Linked DNA regions of Homo sapiens: region 1 is linked to region 2. Evidence: fine-mapped expression QTL. A gene starts in region 2. The other region holds a variant in brackets. All regions are shown on one strand. Distances are from middle to middle. Region 1 overlaps PDIA2 (protein disulfide isomerase family A member 2). Region 2 holds the start of MRPL28 (mitochondrial ribosomal protein L28).

The links.
Region 1: its variant is fine-mapped to the expression of MRPL28 in testis (GTEx, PIP above 0.99).

What each region holds. Positions count from the first base shown.
Region 1 is chr16:286,501-295,201 of GRCh38, reverse strand. It overlaps PDIA2 (protein disulfide isomerase family A member 2), which reads right to left. Exons shown (of 11, transcript NM_006849.4): 9 at 8,467-8,648; 10 at 8,257-8,367; 11 at 7,987-8,133. The coding sequence ends at 8,089. It overlaps AXIN1 (axin 1), which reads left to right. Exons shown (of 11, transcript NM_003502.4): 8 at 1,484-1,714; 9 at 3,905-4,012; 10 at 5,595-5,762; 11 at 6,954-7,762. The coding sequence ends at 7,080. Among named protein-coding and RNA genes, the nearest start is that of PDIA2, 7.7 kb to the right of the region's middle. The variant G/A (reference allele first, on the strand shown) is at 4,518.
Region 2 is chr16:365,807-374,507 of GRCh38, reverse strand. MRPL28 (mitochondrial ribosomal protein L28) reads left to right here and starts at 3,970. Exons shown (of 6, transcript NM_006428.5): 1 at 3,970-4,009; 2 at 4,283-4,577; 3 at 5,288-5,440; 4 at 5,873-6,007; 5 at 6,094-6,180; 6 at 6,726-7,539. The coding sequence starts at 4,290. The coding sequence ends at 6,833. PGAP6 (post-GPI attachment to proteins 6) reads left to right here. Exons shown (of 13, transcript NM_021259.3): 10 at 109-287; 11 at 357-503; 12 at 1,781-1,897; 13 at 2,225-3,720. The coding sequence ends at 2,521. RefSeq lists an enhancer at 1,669-2,240.

The DNA.
Region 1 (8,701 bases), 79 kb after region 2:
CCTGGGAGGCGGAGATTGCAGTGAGCCGAGATCCGAGGTCGAGCCATTGCACTGCAGCCTGGGCAACAAGAGCAAAACTCTGTCTCAAAAAAAGAAAAAAAAAAAGTCTCCATGAAAGAATTTTTTTTTTTTTTTTTTGAGACGGAGTCTTGCTCTGTTGCCCAGGCTGGAGTGCAGTGGCCTGATCTCAGCTCACTGCAAGCCTCGCCTCCCGGGTTCATGCCATTCTCCTGCCTCAGCCTCAAGAGCAGCTGGGACTGCAGGCGCCCGCCACCACGCCCGGCTAATTTTTTGTATTTTTTTAGTAGAGGTGGGGTTTCACCGTGTTAGCCAGGACGGTCTCGATCTCTTGACCTCGTGATCCGCCCTCCTCAGCCTCCCAAAGTGCTGGGATTACAGGCGTGAGCCACCGCGCCTGGCCTTTTTTTTTTTTTTTTTTTTTTTTTGAGATGGGGTTTCGCTCCTGTGGCTCAGGCTGGAGTGCAACAGGCCAGTGTCAACGCACTGCAACCTCCACCTCCCAGGTTCAAGTGGTTCTCCTGTCTAACCCACCTGAGTAGCTGGGATTACAGGCACCCACTATTATGCCCAGTTAACTTTTTGTATTTTTGTAGAAACAGGGTTTCACCATGTTGGCCAGGCTGGTCTTGAACTCCTGACCTCAGATGATCCACCCGCCTCGGCCTCCCAGCGTGCTGGGATTACCGCGCCTGGCCATTTTTTTTTTTTTTTTTTTTTTTTGAGATGGAGTCTCACTCTTGCCTAGGCTGGAGTGCAGTGGTGCAATCTCAGCTCACCGCAACCTCTGCCTCCCAGGTTCAAGCGATTCTCCTGCCTCAGCCTCCCGAGTAACTAGAATTACTGGTATCCACCACCACACTTGGGTAATTTTTTGTATTTTTTGAGTAGAGTCATGGTTTTGCCATGTTGGCCAGGCTGTTCTTGAACTCCTGACCTCAGGCGATCCACCCACCTTGGCCTCCCAGAGTATTGGGATTACAGGCAAATGAGGGTTGGTTTTTTGTTGTCTTTTTTATTCCTGAGACTGAGCCTCACTCTGTCACCCAGGCTGGAGTGCGGTGGCGTGATCCCGGCTCACTGTAACCTCCACTTCCCCAGTTCCAGCCATTCTCGGGCCCCAGCCTCCAGAGTAGCAGGGATGACAGGCGCCCAGCTAATTTTGTATATTTAGTAGCGATGAGGTTTCACCATGTTAGGTTGATCTCGAACTCCCGACCTCTGGTGATCTGCCCGCCTCGGCCTCCCGAAATGCTGGGATTACAGGTGTGAGCCACCATGCCTGGCCGGGATGTTTTTATTGTGTGGTCTGTGGAGGACGTCCATGTGGCTTGGTGGCCAGGCCCCAGTGCCCCATCCCATCCTATCCCTCAAGGAGGCTGCCCTTGTGAGATGAGTGTAGCCCCACCAGGCCACCTGGCCAGGGTGTCGGCCACAGTCACAACTTGTTCTCTTGTTCCCCAAGGTCTTCGGGGACGAGGAAGCCACAGCCCCATGAGAACTCCAGACCCTTGTCCCTTGAGCACCCCTGGGCCGGCCCTCAGCTCCGGACCTCCGTGCAGCCCTCCCACCTCTTCATCCAAGACCCCACCATGCCACCCCACCCAGCTCCCAACCCCCTAACCCAGCTGGAGGAGGCGCGCCGACGTCTGGAGGAGGAAGAAAAGAGAGCCAGCCGAGCACCCTCCAAGCAGAGGTACGGCCGCGTCGTGGGGTGGGGTGGGTCTTGGGGGTTACCACAGCACCACTCCTGGGGCTGAAGCTCCCCGAGGCCTGAGGTCTTCAGGGGAAAAACGGCCCTCTGGGTGTCCCCCAGCCATACTGGGCCCTTCCATCCACTGAGAACCACTGAGGGGCCACGTGGCAGGCCACCCTGCGGTGGACGGAGGCTGGGGCTGGAGCTTTCACACACCCGAGGCCGCCGCGCTCATTGCTCTGGAGGCGGGGTCCCTCCTCAACCTGAGCCCAGTCTGCAGGGAGGCTGCAGGGCCCCAGTGTGTGGGGAACGCCGGTCCCCAGCCAGAGGCTGCTCGCTGCTGGGCAGCCTGGGCTTTAGGGCAGAGGTCCTGGAGGCATGGCGGCTGCCTCTTGACAGTTGCGTCCCAGGAGCCCTGAGTGGCTCTGCACGGTCGGAAAGCTACGTGGTTCTGAAAGCCGTGCAGATGTAGAAGTGTCGTCCTGGACGTCCAGCCCACAGCCCTCCTCGCTGTGTCCTCTTGTCATCCTGGATGTCCAGCCCACAGCCCTCCTCACTGTGCCCTTCTCTCATCCGGGACGTCCAGCCCACAGCCCTCCTCACTGCGCCCTCCTTGGTCTTCTGGGCTCCGTAGCCAGACCCTGTTCTCTCCCTAGGGCAGGGAGGCTTCTGTCTGGGCTGCAGGGAGGTCTCCCCTTTGTGTGGGCAGCATTTTCGCTCCAGGCCAGAACCTGGCTTCTCCATTTTCAGCTTGCTCATAAGGCCAGTTTTCTCGGCCATCCTGGGTCATTGGAATTCCCCACAGATCAGTGTCTCTTTGAGGGTCCTGGGAGCCTATAGCTCACCCAGGCCCTGGGGCTGTGGTCACAGAGGCCATGGTTGCCTTCAGAGGTCACCAGCTCCTCCTGTCCACCTTGGGTCACCTGGGGCCTGGGGTCCAGGCCCGCCTCCCGGGCCTCCAGCTTTGGGGCTGTGCCACTCCAGGGAGGCTGTGGCTAGGGGCCTTATTCTGCCGAACCAGCATCAGGGTTCAGACCCTTCCCAGCTGAAAGCCTGTGTGGTCTCAAGTCATTAAAGGTTCCTGAGCTTCTGCCAGGCTGTGAGCCTAATGACAGCTCTGGGGCCAGAAAGGGTCACAGTTACCTCAAACCCAAAGGGTGACCACTTTATGACCAAACATCTGTGACCCTGTGATCGTGTTCGGCCAACAAGGAGCTGGAGCCCCCTGCCATGCAGGAGCCTGGAGTGTGGTGCTCGGAGCCGGGGCGTGTGACTGGGCTGGCAGATGAGCCGTGGTGGGCATCGTGTGCAGCAGGTCCGAGGCCCTGGGCGTGTGTGGGCTCTCCTGCCGGGGCTTCCTGAGCCATCCTTGCTGGGCTGAGCAGGGGTCTCTCAGGTTGCGTCTGCGCTTTCCCCTGGTACCCGTGGCCCCACATGATGGCAGGGGATGCCCGCTGAGCCGTGGGACCACTCCCGCCGTTCTGAGACACGACCCTCCCGCCCGTTTGGCTGCTGGGCTCCAGCATCCCCCCATGGGGAAACCCAGAGTTGCTGGGTTTGTCCGTCCAGGGGATGTGGGTTTTTGCGAGAAGCTGTGGAGACGGAGTGAAGGCCCAGAGGCAGGTTGGGTGCTGGGCCCTGTCAGGATGTCAGAGTAGAAACCACCATCAAGGTCGCCCAGTGTACCCCGGTGGAGGTGTCCACGTGAGAGGAGCTGCTGTGCTGCCCCAGGATGGCCTCAGTTGTGGCGCCGGGGGGCCCTCAGCCTCCCTGAGGTGCAGACCGAGTTGCCACGCACGCCCCAGAGCCAGTGTCCACGCTATCGGTGGGGAATTCATGCCAAGAGACTGAAGGACAGACTCTCGGGACGAGATGTCATCCCACCAGAGGGGATGAGGTGGTGGGATCCCAGCACCCCTGATCGGAAGCTCCCCAAAGTGCGGTCCAGGGAACTCAGGGGGTTGGTGCCGGGATCATGAATGTGGGGCGCGCTGCAGTATCGGGTACCACCAAGGCAGGCCTAGGAGGGGACTCGGTGTCTTGTCTACCCTGCAAACTGGAGCCTGCGCAGGGTGGGTTGTTCGGGCCCTTCACGCTCCGTCCGTCCCTGCGCAGCAGCATTGGTCGAGGCTCCCTCCCCAGGGCTGGTGGCCGCCGGCACAGCCACCTTTGACGCGGGTTGTTCCCTAGGTATGTGCAGGAGGTTATGCGGCGGGGACGCGCCTGCGTCAGGCCAGCGTGCGCGCCGGTGCTGCACGTGGTACCAGCCGTGTCGGACATGGAGCTCTCCGAGACAGAGTACGTGCGTCCTGAGGGTCCTCCCGGTCCTGCCCACCCCAGCCCTGGCGTCCCAAGCCAGGTCCCATCGTAGAGCCGCCGTCCCGGGGCTTGAGCTCGGGTACCACGCTCAGAAGCAGCTGTGGCAGGAGAGGGTCCCGTGGCATCAGACTCGAAGCTGCCCGAGAGCCTTCTCCTGTCTCCATCAAAGGAGACGCTGACTGTCCAGCATGATGACAAGTGACCAAAAGGCCCGGCTGGAGGCCTGGGCACAGCCAGCCCCTGCATCCACACAGGTGTCACGGCCAGGCTTCCTGTGGGGCAGAGACCTGCCTGCGCCTCCACCCGGCTTGGAACGGGCCGGTCCCTGCCAGGCCTGACTTGACCAGGCTCGGGGCTGCAGGTGCTGAGGTGCCCGGGGTGCGTCTGCTTGCAGTGTGGGTCTCAGCCATGCGTGTCTGTCCAGCCCGTGCAGTCAGTGAGTCGGGGCTCTGCTCCCACCTACAATGCTGACTGCTCTGAACCC[G/A]TGAGAAAGGGCTCAGACCATGTGATCCCACATGGGCCGTGTCGACGGCGCCTTTATGTGCTCAAGGTGGCAGGAGGAGGGGGCACACCCCAAAAGGGGCCTTGAGAACAAGGGTCCCCCAGGCCTTGCCAGGCTTGCCCCAGATGCAGGTTTGTTGTGGCCCTCATCGTGTAGGCGGTCTTGGGGCAGCCTTCACCTGTCCCTGGGGCAGCCCCCACGTGTTGGCTCTTCTCTGATGGGCCTGGCTCCAGGAGGCTCCGAGGATGTGGCACTGGGAGGACGTCTAAGAGCGCACGTGGCTGGGGGCCTGGTGTGCAAAGAGGATGGTCACATGGCTCAGGTGGCCATGAGGCCTTCCTGCCCTGGTGTTGGCTCTGGAAGCCTCTGGTGCACCCAGCCAGGAGGAGGCCCAAGGGCTGAACCCCAGTGGGCCAGGGGCAGCTTCTGGAGTCACTTGAAGGACAGGTGGCGGCGGGGTAGCCGAGTGGGGGGTGCGAGAGCAACCAGGCCCCGCCCGTCATCCCGGCACGGCTGTGGAAGCACAGCACCTGTCAGAGGAGGGCCCGGCTCAGCCTGGGCAGGAGACGGTGCCAGCCCTGCCCCCTCTGAAGGGCCTGCTGGCCACCCCCGCCCCAGTCCTCCGACAAACTTCGCTGCGGGGTCAGGCTTATCCAGAAATCGTGCACAGTTCTGTTTGTCCAATCCCTGCCCTTCAGATGTTTTTAAGGTTTGGGGGCCGTAGGTCTTCCTGAGATAGGAGCCCTGCAGCCTGCCCTGCCATCCTAGAGGTGGGAGCTGCAGTGCACCTGGCAGCCAGGCCCTGGCCAGTCGAGGGTGGGGCTGTGAGGCAGCAGGGAGACCTTCGTGCTCCCAGTGAGCGGAGCCGACTCCACTGCTAGCGGACTAGATCCCAGATTGAGATGCTGTGCGGGGGCTGCGGGCCCCAGGTGTTTGAATGGGGTGCTGCTCACCCCTGCAGGCCTGCCCCGCCTTACACTGGCAGCCTGAGGCCAGCAGGAGGGACCCTGTGGGACCTCAGTCCAAAACCAGGTACCACCGCTGCATCTCTTTCCCCAGGACAAGATCGCAGAGGAAGGTGGGCGGCGGGAGTGCCCAGCCGTGTGACAGCATCGTTGTGGCGTACTACTTCTGCGGGGAACCCATCCCCTACCGCACCCTGGTGAGGGGCCGCGCTGTCACCCTGGGCCAGTTCAAGGAGCTGCTGACCAAAAAGGGCAGCTACAGGTGAGTGTGAGGGCTGGGGTGCCCCCTCCCCGCACGAGTATGTGGGTGCCCAACGGTATGAAAAAGAGGGTTTCCAGCCGGGCACAGTGGCTCACGTCCTAATCCTGGCACTTTGGGAGGCTGAGGTGGGCGGATTGCCTCAGCTCAGCAGTTCGAGACCAGCCTGGGCAACATGGTGAAACCCCGTCTCTACTAAAAATACTAAAGAAATTAGCCAGGTGTGCTACTTGGGAGGCTGAGGCAGAATTGCTTGAACTCGGGAGGCAGAGGTTGCAGTGAGCTGAGATCACGCCACTGCTCTCCAGCCTGGGTGACAGAGCGAGACTCTGTCTCTACCCCCGCCCAAAAAAAAAAAAAGAAGAAAAAGGGCTTCCGGCCATTTCAGCTCATGTCCCTCATCTGCAACTAAAGCCACTTCTCCAAGCCCTAGGCTGAGGGTGGCATCAGGCTTTCGGCCCCACAGGACTGAGAGGGTCCAAAGGGACCCCCGTCCAGGGCCCTCATCTTCGGGGTGGGAAAACAGAGGCCAGACCCCTAGACGACGATGGTCTGAACCTTGTGTTAGGCTCCCCTAGGCCGACCTTGTCTCCAGGCTCTGGACTCATGTGCTTTTGCCTGACTGAAAAGCCAAGCCCCCTCCTACCAAGGTTCATTCGCCCTGGGCCACTCAGCCCTGCAGGGCCCTGCGTGCAGCCAGCCTTGGAGGCTCCCGAGTGAGCACTGGGCGGTGAGCAGAGGGGGCCTGACCCCAAGAGCCTGGCAGAGCCTGGCGGGTGGTTCCCACCGTCCACAAGCCACTGTGCAAACACCCCATGACTGCAGATGTGGTGCTGAGGGAGGGCCCCAGTTGGGGTCACCTCCATGACGGGGCTCAGCCCTTGGGAAGCAGACACCCCACACCCGTCCACTTCCCCCCTGCAACTCCTGAGAGGCTGGGGCAGGTACTCCCAGGGGGATGTGGGGTGCTCCCAGCAGGCAGTGAACTCACCCCCCATGGCTGCCCACTTCACCCACATGTGGTCATTGCACTGTTCACTGTTGCCCTGGGAGGGGGCGCACATGCAGTGGGGGCCGTGGGGCATGGACAGGAGGCTCCTCGGGATGGGGTGTGGACACGCCGTCCCCTGCCACAGGCCTCCTTCCCATCTGCGGTGCTGCCTGCTCACTGCCCTCCTCACCTCCGTCCTGCAGATACTACTTCAAGAAAGTGAGCGACGAGTTTGACTGTGGGGTGGTGTTTGAGGAGGTTCGAGAGGACGAGGCCGTCCTGCCCGTCTTTGAGGAGAAGATCATCGGCAAAGTGGAGAAGGTGGACTGATAGGCTGGTGGGCTGGCCGCTGTGCCAGGCGAGGCCCTTGGCGGGCACGGGTGTCACGGCCAGGCAGATGACCTCGTACTCAGGAGCCCGATGGGGAACAGTGTTGGGTGTACCACCCATCCCTGTGGTCTACCCGTGTCTAGAGGCAGGTAGGGGGTCCCTCCAAGTGGTCCACAAGCTTCTGTCCTGCCCCCAAGGAGGCAGCCTGGACCACTCCTCATAGCAATACTTGGAGGGCCCAGCCCAAGTGAGGCAGCCGAGGTCCCTGCTGCCAGCTTCAGGTGACCCCCCCCCATCCCCCGGCACCTCCCTTGGGCACGTGTGCTGGGATCTACTTTCCCTCTGGGATTTGCCCACGTACCCAGGTCTGGGTGGGGCCCAGGCCCGGATGCAGAGGCCTGCAGGGCCTCTGTCAATTGTACGCGCCACCGAGTGCCTTCAACACAGCTTGTCTCTTGCCTGCCACTGTGTGAATCGGCGACGGAGCACTGCACCTGCCTCCAGCCGCCGGCTGTGCAGTCCTGGGTCCTCCTTTCTGAGGGCCCGTGTAAATATGTACATTTCTCAGGCTAGGCCAGCAGGGGCTGCCCGAGTCTGTTTTTCATGCGATGACACTTGTACAATTAATTATCTTTTCAAAGGTACTTGGATAATAATGAAATAAAACTGTTTTTGAACCTGCCCTGGCTGTGGTGTGTCTTCTGCGGGTGGGGCCTGGCCTAGGTCTCCCAGCCTCAGCCCCCGTGGTAAAGGAGGGCACACTGGCCTCCAGCAGGCATGGGGATCACCTGTGACTCAGAGGCTGGCAGGGCTAGAGCAGGAACGTGCTCCACCTTCCTGCCCTGGAGCCCCCAGCTGGGCAGAGCTGCATCAGGCCAGCCTTGCTGAGGGACCAGGCACACAGAGTCCAGAACCAAGCTCACTCTTTATTCACAATGCACAGCTCCCTCTGGTACCCAAGGGGGTGGCTCCTGTCCAGCAGTGATGGCGGGGGTGACACGGGGGCAGCTACAGTTCCTCCTTGGACCCCATAGTGGAGTTGGCCGGTGGCTCCTAGAAAGGGTCACAAGTGCAGCTCGAAGCTCTGCTCCCAGCCTACCCCTGCCCCCGCCCCTGCCAGCCCTGTGTAAAGAGGATTTGTGCAGAGGCCTGGAGCCCTGGCTTAGGGACACCCACCGGGAACGGGGCTGCTGGCTCCTCCGGGGGCTCCTCCGTGGGCAGCACGCCCCCGTTGTCCAGGAACTTGGAGAAAGTCTCCAGGTCCCTGGTGCTTTTGTATTCAATCACCTGAGAAGAGGCAGGGGGATCTGGAGGACACGTGGGGCCCAGCCCCATGCCCAGCAAGATGGCACCCCGGCTTCCTCCCCAGCCACCTGTCCGCCATACCTTCCGACCTGGCCCTGCTGGGAAGTACTTGAGAGTAGGGAAGCCGTGCACAGCGAAGGCATCCAGCTCGTTGGCCGTGGCATCCAGCTCAGCAATGATGATGTCCTCGTGGTCTTGGTACTTCTCAGCCAATGCCTCCCAGGCAGGGGCCATCTCCTTGCAGTGGGTGCACCACGGGGCATCTAGGATGGGAGCCGTTGAGCACAGCCATCTGGGCAGCCCCTGCCCAGCCCAC
Region 2 (8,701 bases):
GCTTGCTCCTGGGTGAGGAAGGGGCTTCTCTGCAGGGTCCTGGGTGAGGGGTGGGCCCTGAGGTTCAGCAGTGCCCCCAGCCTCCGCGTCGGGGTTTTGTGACCGCAGGCTGGCGTGGGTGGAGCTGCACGGACAACAGCACAGCCCAGACGGTGGCCCAGCAGAGGGCGGCCACACTGCTGCTCACGCTCAGCAACCTCATGTTCCTGGCCCCCATCGCCGTCTCAGTGCGGCGATTCTTCCTGGTGGAGGCCTCCGTCTACGCCTACACCATGTTCTTCTCCACGGTAGGCTGGCCCCTCCTGCAGGGATGTGGGGTGGGAGGGCAGGACCGCGCTCATGGAGCCTCCCCACAGTTCTACCACGCCTGCGACCAGCCCGGGGAGGCGGTGCTGTGCATCCTCAGCTACGACACGCTGCAGTACTGCGACTTCTTGGGCTCCGGGGCGGCCATCTGGGTCACCATCCTGTGCATGGCACGGCTCAAGACAGTCCTGAAATACGTGAGTGGCCCTCGACGTGGGGTGTGGGCTCCGGGGGAGCAGGGCCCCCAAGTGCAGCCTGCGAAAGGCAGTACCGTGGGAGAGGCCGGACCTGGCGTTGGGCACGGCCCCTGGAAACCTCACATCTCGGCCGAGCATGGTGGCTCACACCTGTAATCCCTAGGCCGAGCATGGTGGCTCACACCTGTAATGCCTTGGCCGAGCATGGTGGCTCACACCTGTAATCCCAACACTTGCAGGAGGATCCCATGAGGCCAGGGGTTCAAGAGCAGCCTGGGCTGTACAAAAAATCGAAAAGTTAGCCGAGCGTAGTGGTACATGCCTGTGGTCCCAGCCACTCGGGAGACTAAGGTGGGAGGATCGCTTGATCCCAGGCATTGGAGGCGTTGGAGTGAGCCGAGGTCACAGCACTGCACTCCAGCCTGGGTGACAAAAGAAAAGAAAAGAAACCTCATGTCTTCTGTGATGCCACACGGAGATGCGGGTCTGAGACCCCGCAGGCAGTTGTGAGGGGGCAGTGCCAGCTGTTTGGAGGATGCCAGGAAGGAAGGTGGTAGGCAGGGGAGGCCAGGCCCCCTGCCTTCGAGAAGCCCCCACCCATGCTCCCTGGGTCCTTGGGGCCAATGATGCTTTGGGGACTCTCTGTGGCAGCTGGCCCTGGCAAGGGGAGACTCATGCCCTGGGCTTGTGAGCTGCATGCTCTGCCCTCCCATCTGCTCTGGGAACTGCAGGCTGGGTACTGCCCCAAGGGGGTGCCCATGGGAGCCCCACAGCCAGGGCAGAGGGGAGGCTGGGAAGCACCAGGGTCCTGCAGGGCTGAGTGCGGGGCCTGAACCTGCAGATAGGCAGAGAACTGTAGGCTGTGGGCAGAGGTGTCTGATGGAGACTGGGGGGTGGGAGCCCCTCCCCATGGAACAGTGGGTGGGAGACTGAAGCCACCCTGATGGGGGACTTCTAGAAACCCAGTGGTACAGGGGGCTAGTGAGTGTGTGGGTGCAGAGCGGCCATATGCGTCTGTCCAGTTTGTGTGAGCATCGTCTAATCCCCCAGAGATGCCTGCCTGGCCACATTCACCTGTGGATGCAATACAGAAGCTGAAGGAGGGGCATGTCCCTGCCGGCTGGCAGAGCTAGTCAGAGGCTGGCAGAGCTGGTCTGAGGGTGGCAGCAGCTCCGAGGGGGCAGGCAGAGGTGCTGTGGGGCCGTGGGGTACGCGTGCTCCTGCTGGGCCTTGAGCCCTCAGAGACGTCCCTGCAGTCATCCCTGTGTCTTGCGCAGGTGCTGTTTCTTCTGGGTACACTGGTCATCGCCATGTCCTTGCAGCTGGACCGCAGGGGCATGTGGAACATGCTGGGGCCCTGCCTCTTTGCCTTCGTGATCATGGCCTCCATGTGGGTAAGGAGCCGGGCTGGCTGGCACTGCTGCCCAGGTGCTCGGAGAAGAGAGCCTGGCCCCTTGCTCTAGCCACGTTCCTGGTCCTGCTCCAACCAGTGAATGCCCATATCTGCTGGGGGTTGCCATGGCACCCACAGAGGCCCAGCATGGCTGTGTCCCTGAGGCCTGGGCCTGAGGACCAGTGGCCTTGAGCCCCCTCGAAGCAGCCCACCCTTGTCGTTCTGCTGCCCAGACCTGGGCAGGCCCCCAGTAACCACCGTATCTGGGCCCTGGGAGCTGCAGCCGCGGCCCCACCTGCACTGATACCTGCGTGGCTGTTTTCTCCAGGCTTACCGCTGCGGGCACCGGCGCCAGTGCTACCCCACCTCGTGGCAGCGCTGGGCCTTCTACCTCCTGCCCGGCGTCTCTATGGCCTCTGTGGGCATCGCCATCTACACCTCCATGATGACTAGCGACAACTACTACTACACCCACAGCATCTGGCACATCCTGCTGGCCGGGAGCGCAGCCTTGCTGCTGCCGCCACCTGACCAGCCCGCCGAGCCCTGGGCCTGCTCGCAGAAATTCCCCTGCCACTATCAGATCTGCAAGAACGATCGGGAGGAACTGTACGCAGTGACGTGACACTGGCCTGGGGACAGCTGCTGCTCTGATGACCTCTTCAGCCAGGAGCTGTATCGAGGGGGAGGCGCCTGGTCCAGCCCTGGACAGATTGATTTCCAGCTGAATAAATTGGCCTAGATACCCTCTTACTTCCTCCTACTGAGGAGAGGGCCACCCCTCCCTCACACGCACCTCTCCTCGCCAGCTGCCTGCTCGCTGCTGAGATCCCTCTGCAGATCCCAGCTGCTGTCTGCAGTGGCCCCTGGGGCCTGGGCTTGGTTACTTGGAGACCACAGGTGCCTGTGCGAGGGTGGGGCTGTGTGCTCTGCTGGCCTGTGGGTGGCTAGAGATGGGGAGAAGGACTCCCTATGGTCCTGTTCCCTGGCGAGGCTGTGGTGAGACCCATGGCGCCCAGGAGCCCTGAGCCCACCACTGGGGCCGGGAGCTGTGGACTCCGAGACCCCTGCTCCTGGCCCCTGTGTGGCCCTGATGCCAGCCTGCCTGGGGCATGGAGGATCCCCCTCTGCTGCTGTGGTCACCATAGGGACGGGAGACGGAGGTTTCCCCCAGAGCTGATGGGCACTGGGGATGCAGGCTCCCGCCCCGCCCCTCCCTTTTTCCTGGCTCTGGAGCCTTGGGTCCCTGAGAAGAGCTTCCTTGGACTGGGGTGCTCTGCTGCTCTGGGGGTTTGGCCCAGAAGGAACCCCTACCCAGCCCTGTCCACCCACCCCAGCGTTCCTGGGCCCCCCTCTGGGAGCTTCCTCTTGGTCCCAGGAGCTGCGGTGGTGTCTGCCCCCTGCACTGGGCTCTGTGCCCTGTGGGTGTTCAGGAGACTGGACTGTCTCTGCTCCTCATGCAAACCTTGTGGGGGAAGCAATGACCAGGAGCAGCACCTGGCCCCTCCCTGAGGCCTGTGAGTGTCTCGGATCCGCCCTGGAGAAGTGAGTGGCTGAGACCCGGGTGGGGCCCTCCTACCCTTGGCTCTGGGGGCTTCCCTTCTGGGTCTTGTCCGGGATATGGCCTTCCTGAAGGTCTTACCTCCCCCAGCCGCCCTGCACTTGACCACCAAAGCAATCTCTAAGCTTATAAAGGAGAAACATATATATATGGGGTTTTTTGGAGTAAAGGAAAATTCTAAGATATTAAGACATATTTTTATGTAGATCTGATCTATCTGTGTTTGGTGAATTTAATATTCTACATTGATTTTTCAAACTAAACGAGTTTTTACATTTTTTCTGTGCTCCTTCCCGGGTAGGGTAAGTGGGGCCCGGGAGAACAAGCACCGCCCCGCCCGTGCCGCCCTTCGCGGAAACGCCGGGGCCGCACGTAGCTAACGGTGCCTTGAGCTGCTGCTGCTGTATGTGGGGTGTTTTTTACGGTCCCTAAAGACGGAAGCGGGGCGGGACGAGGGGGTAGACGGATGGCTTTTACAGCCAGTCAGCGGTGGGAGGAGGGCCAGGCGCGGCAGATCGGCTTCCGGTTCCGGTGGGCTCTGAACCCTGAAAGGTGGGCGCGGGCAGGTGGGGTGTGGGGGGGCGCCGGGGCAGAAGGGGAGGGGCAGGTGGGTGCGGGACAGGGGCCGGAGTGAGAACCGGGGGCCGGGGTAGGGGGTAGCGGGTGAGAGCCGGGGGCCGGGGTAGCGGGTGAGAGCCGGGGGCCGGGGTAGCGGGTGAGAGCCGGGGGCCGGGGTAGCGGGTGAGAGTCGGGGGCCGGGGTAGGGGGTGAGTGCCGGGGGCCTGGCCAGGCTGCGACTGACTGCGAGCCCCCACCTCCCGCCAGGCTCGCGATGCCTCTACACAAGTATCCCGTGTGGCTCTGGAAGCGGCTGCAGCTGCGGGAGGGCATCTGTTCCCGCCTGCCCGGCCACTACCTGCGCTCCCTGGAGGAGGAGCGGACGCCCACTCCCGTGCACTATAGGCCTCATGGGGCCAAGTTCAAGATCAACCCCAAGAACGGGCAGCGGGAGCGTGTGGAGGACGTGCCCATTCCCATCTACTTTCCCCCCGAATCCCAGCGGGGGTTGTGGGGCGGCGAGGGCTGGATCCTGGGCCAAATATATGCCAACAACGACAAGGTGGGTCCGCAGGCGGCCTTCAGGGGCTCCTCTCAGGGCTTGGCTGTGCCGGCTCTGTGCCGGACGCCCGGGGTACCTGGAGAGACCTGGGTGGGCCCTGGGGATTACAGCCTGGAGGCGACACATCTCCGGCAAAGGAGCACGCTGAGTGAAGAACCGCAGTTCTGGCAAACAGGACTGATAAAGTAGGGGTGAGGTGGGGTGACTCAGGCCGGGGGAGCAACCAGAGGCCGTGGGGAGTCGGGGTAAAGTTAGGATGGGGAGGAGGCCTGTGTGATGAGCAGAGCAGGTGGGAGAGGCGAGCAGAGCAGGTGGGGGAGGCGAGCAGAGCTTCGAGGCTGCTTGTGGTGGACTTCCTGGCGGGACTGCTGAAGCCTGTGGGGAGACTTGTGTCACCTCCAGGTTGGAATGTGACAACCTGTAAACTGTGGGGTCGCACATGTTTCTGAAACACATGCAGCAACCATGTGACCAGGGCGGGAACGCCCAGCTTGTTGGGGAGCAGCTGACTTCTGGGTACACAGTCAGGACCCGGGTCGGGCTGGGGCGGCACTGGGCTGGGGGCCGGCCCAGTTAGCTCTAGGTCCCCAGTCTGACAGCAGTGGTTCTGTGATGGAGCCTCCGGGGGGGAGGTGAGGGCAGTTGCCTGGGCCCCCCTTGGTATGTAAGAGAAAGCAGCAGTACTCATGGAGGCTCTGTTGCACCCTCAGCTCTCCAAGAGGCTGAAGAAAGTGTGGAAGCCACAGCTGTTTGAGCGAGAGTTCTACAGTGAGATCCTGGACAAGAAGTTCACAGTGACTGTGACCATGCGGACCCTGGACCTCATCGATGAGGCTTATGGGCTCGACTTTTACATCCTCAAGGCAAGCGGGGTGGGGCGAGTCAGTGCACACAGGGTCTGGGATGGGCCAGTCAGACTCACGGGAGCCCCAGGTCAGCATCACACCGGGGCACGCTGACATCTGCACAGGAGGGTCACTGGGAAAGCGTGAGTGGGGCCATGCCCCTTTCTGGCCAGCACCAGTGGGGTTTCCTGCCTTCAGGAGAGGCTGTCGCTCTGTGGGTGGCTGACTTGCCCGTGGGGCCTGAGCGAGCACAGCCGCCCCTTTCCCTGCACTTGGACTTGCTTCTGTGCTGATCCCACCCCCCAGGCTGGGGTGCTGAGGCGGCCCCACCCGGGCCTTCTCTGTCCTGTCCTGGGACCACCAGCGGCTAGAGAGGAGCCAGGTGGGTTGGCTGGAAGGGTAGGTGGGGCCCTGCCACCAGCACCTGGCCCCATGTGAGCCTTCTGCCAGACCCCGAAGGAGGACCTGTGCTCCAAGTTTGGGATGGACCTGAAGCGAGGGATGCTGCTGCGGCTTGCCCGGCAGGACCCCCAGCTGCACCCCGAGGACCCCGAGCGGCGGGCAGCCATCTACGACAAGTACAAGGTGAGGGTTTCCGTCCCGCTCCCTACACCTGGGGACTCGTGGCCCGGCCCTGGGCCTCACTGCCCTTTCCATCTCTGCCTGCCTAGGAATTTGCCATCCCAGAGGAGGAGGCAGAGTGGGTGGGCCTCACGCTGGAGGAGGCCATTGAGAAGCAGAGACTTTTGGAGGAGAAGGTGAGTGTGTGAGCACCAGCCGATGCTGCCTGCCCAGAGCCTGGTGTTCAGGGTCTGGGAGTGTGCTGCCTTGGAGAGAGCCTGCACAAGGGGCTGGTGCACTGGGTGGGCTTGGGGAAGAGCTGCTGCTCTGCATTGCCCACCCAGAGGAGCATGGCCCGCTCCCTCCCCTCCAAGTCCCCACCCTGTTCTGTCCCAGGACCCTCAGTAGGAGGAGTGGGTTCCTGCACTGAGGGTTTGCTCGGCCACCAGCATCCCAGGGTCTGGAGCCTGAGGTAGCTGTCAGGACAGGGAGCCCCTGATGGCATGGCAGCTGGCTGCCCCTATTCCCTCTGTTTATCCATGACCACAGGGATGGGACAGGGGTATGTGTGTGCCTCCGGCATCCCCAAGGGAGGGGGTTCCTCATCTCACCGACAGGACTCTGCCCTCCAGGGCCTCTCATGCCCCGGTTCCTCTGGGCGGCAGCTGCTGATCCCATCCCCGTCGGAACTCCAGCTGCCCTGGGCTTCCCTGGCCTCACCATGAGCCCCTCTCTCCTTCAGGACCCTGTACCCCTGTTCAAGATCTATGTGGCGGAGCTGATCCAGCAGCTGCAGCAGCAGGCACTGTCAGAGCCGGCGGTGGTGCAGAAGAGAGCCAGTGGCCAGTGACCACACAGCTCCTCCATGCCTGACCAACAGGCCCAGCTTTCCCTGCCAGGCCCTTTGCACTGAGGACACAGATCCCGGGGAGCTGTGAGGGCCACCGGTGGGCAGTGGGTGGATCCTGGTTTCGTGTGCTGCCCATGCACCTTCCAGCCCGGGGCCAGCTTGGCAGGGATCCCCAGGAGGCCTGGGCCGCCCAGAGGCTCCTCTCAGGCTGGGCCCCGACGTTTGCGGCAGTGTTCCTTGTGCCCGTGGGGCCGGGAGCGAGTAAAGTCTGGGCCAGGCTGTGTGTGTGTATCTTTGCTTTGAGGACTGGTGTTCTCTTTGGGGATCCTGATCCTGTCACCCCTGCCCTTGCTGCCCCTGAGACCTCGGATGAGCCGTGGGCATTGACTCTGGCTGTGCCCGTCCCCCGGTGAGCTGCAGAGAGCGAGGTTCAATTCTGTGTTTTGTGTTTTTTTTTCTTTTCTTTTTTTGAGACGGAGTCTTGCTCAGTCACCCAGGCTGGAGTGCAGTGGCACGATCTGGACTCACTACAACCTCCACCTCCAGAGTTCAAGTGATTGTCCTGTCTCAGCCTCCTGAGTAGCTGGGATTACAGGCACCCCGCTATCATGTATGGCTAATTGTATTTTAGTAGAGAAGGGGTTTCACCATGTTGGCCAGGCTGGGCTTGAACTCCTGACCTCAGGTGACCCACCTGCCTCAACCTGCCAAAGTGTTGGGATTACAGGCGTGAGCCACCTCCCCTGGCCGTATTCTGTGTCTTTCTTTCCTCTGGTAGAGGGTCTGGTGTAGCTGGGGGCATCCAGGGGTGCAGCCGGATGATGCCCATTCCCTCTCCATTGCACATTCCTGCCCTTCTCGAACATTCTTCAGAGCAGGGCAAGGGAGGCTGTGGTCTGGCTCTGCAGGTACTGGAAGGAACCAGGAGGGGCAGGCCCTCAGAGGGCCGTGCTGGTGCAGCTGCCTGAGTCAGGAGCCTCTCCCTGGTCAGCACTGTTGTGGCGAGTGGTAGAGGAGGTGGGGGCGACACGAACTTGGGGACCTGCGACCTTGGTGTCCCCTCCTGCTACCTCCACCTGACCTGCAGGGTGGAGGTTTGGCCAGCGGGAAGCCGGGCTGTGCACCCTAAGGCATTTCCCGCCCTGAGGTTTTGGGGGTACCTGACCCTCTCCCCCAACCCTTACCTGGAAATCCTGATCCTCCGGACCCATTCGGTTTTCCCAGGGAGCACAGAGGGAGGGCTCCCCCAGCTGCATGTGCAGAATGACAAGGGGGGGTTTATGTCCCCTGAGCCTAAGCCAGCCCCAGCTGGTGGCAGGATGGGGTGAACTGGAGGCAGCTGCCTGACGTGGGCCTGCTGGCTGATTGAGGGGCCCCTGGCTCCCAAGGGGGCTGTGGCAGAGTCCAGAGGGAGTCTGCAGTTGGCCCTGCTGGACTGCAGGGGAGCACGTGGCTCCCGGGGCCGCAAGGGGTCCCTGGGGTCAGGACCTGCCTGGTTCAGAGCCCTGGGAGGGCCCCCGAGGTCTCTTTCCACACCGGGCACCTCTGCCGACATGTCCTGCTGCTCCCCACACCAGTGCCTTCATGTGATGCCCCTGCTCTGTGAACGACCTTGAAAAAAATTTTAGGCCAGGCACGGTGGCTCACACCTGTAATCCGAGCACTTTGGGAGGCCGAGGCGGGTGGATCACGAGGTCAGGAGATAGAGACCATCCTGGCCAACACGGTGAAACCCCATCTCTACTAAAAATACAAAAAATTAGCTAGGCATGTTGACACATGCCTGTGATCTCAGCTACACGGGAGGCTGAGGGAGGAGAATCGCTTGAACCTGGAAGGCAGAGCTTGCAGTGAGCTGAGATTGCACC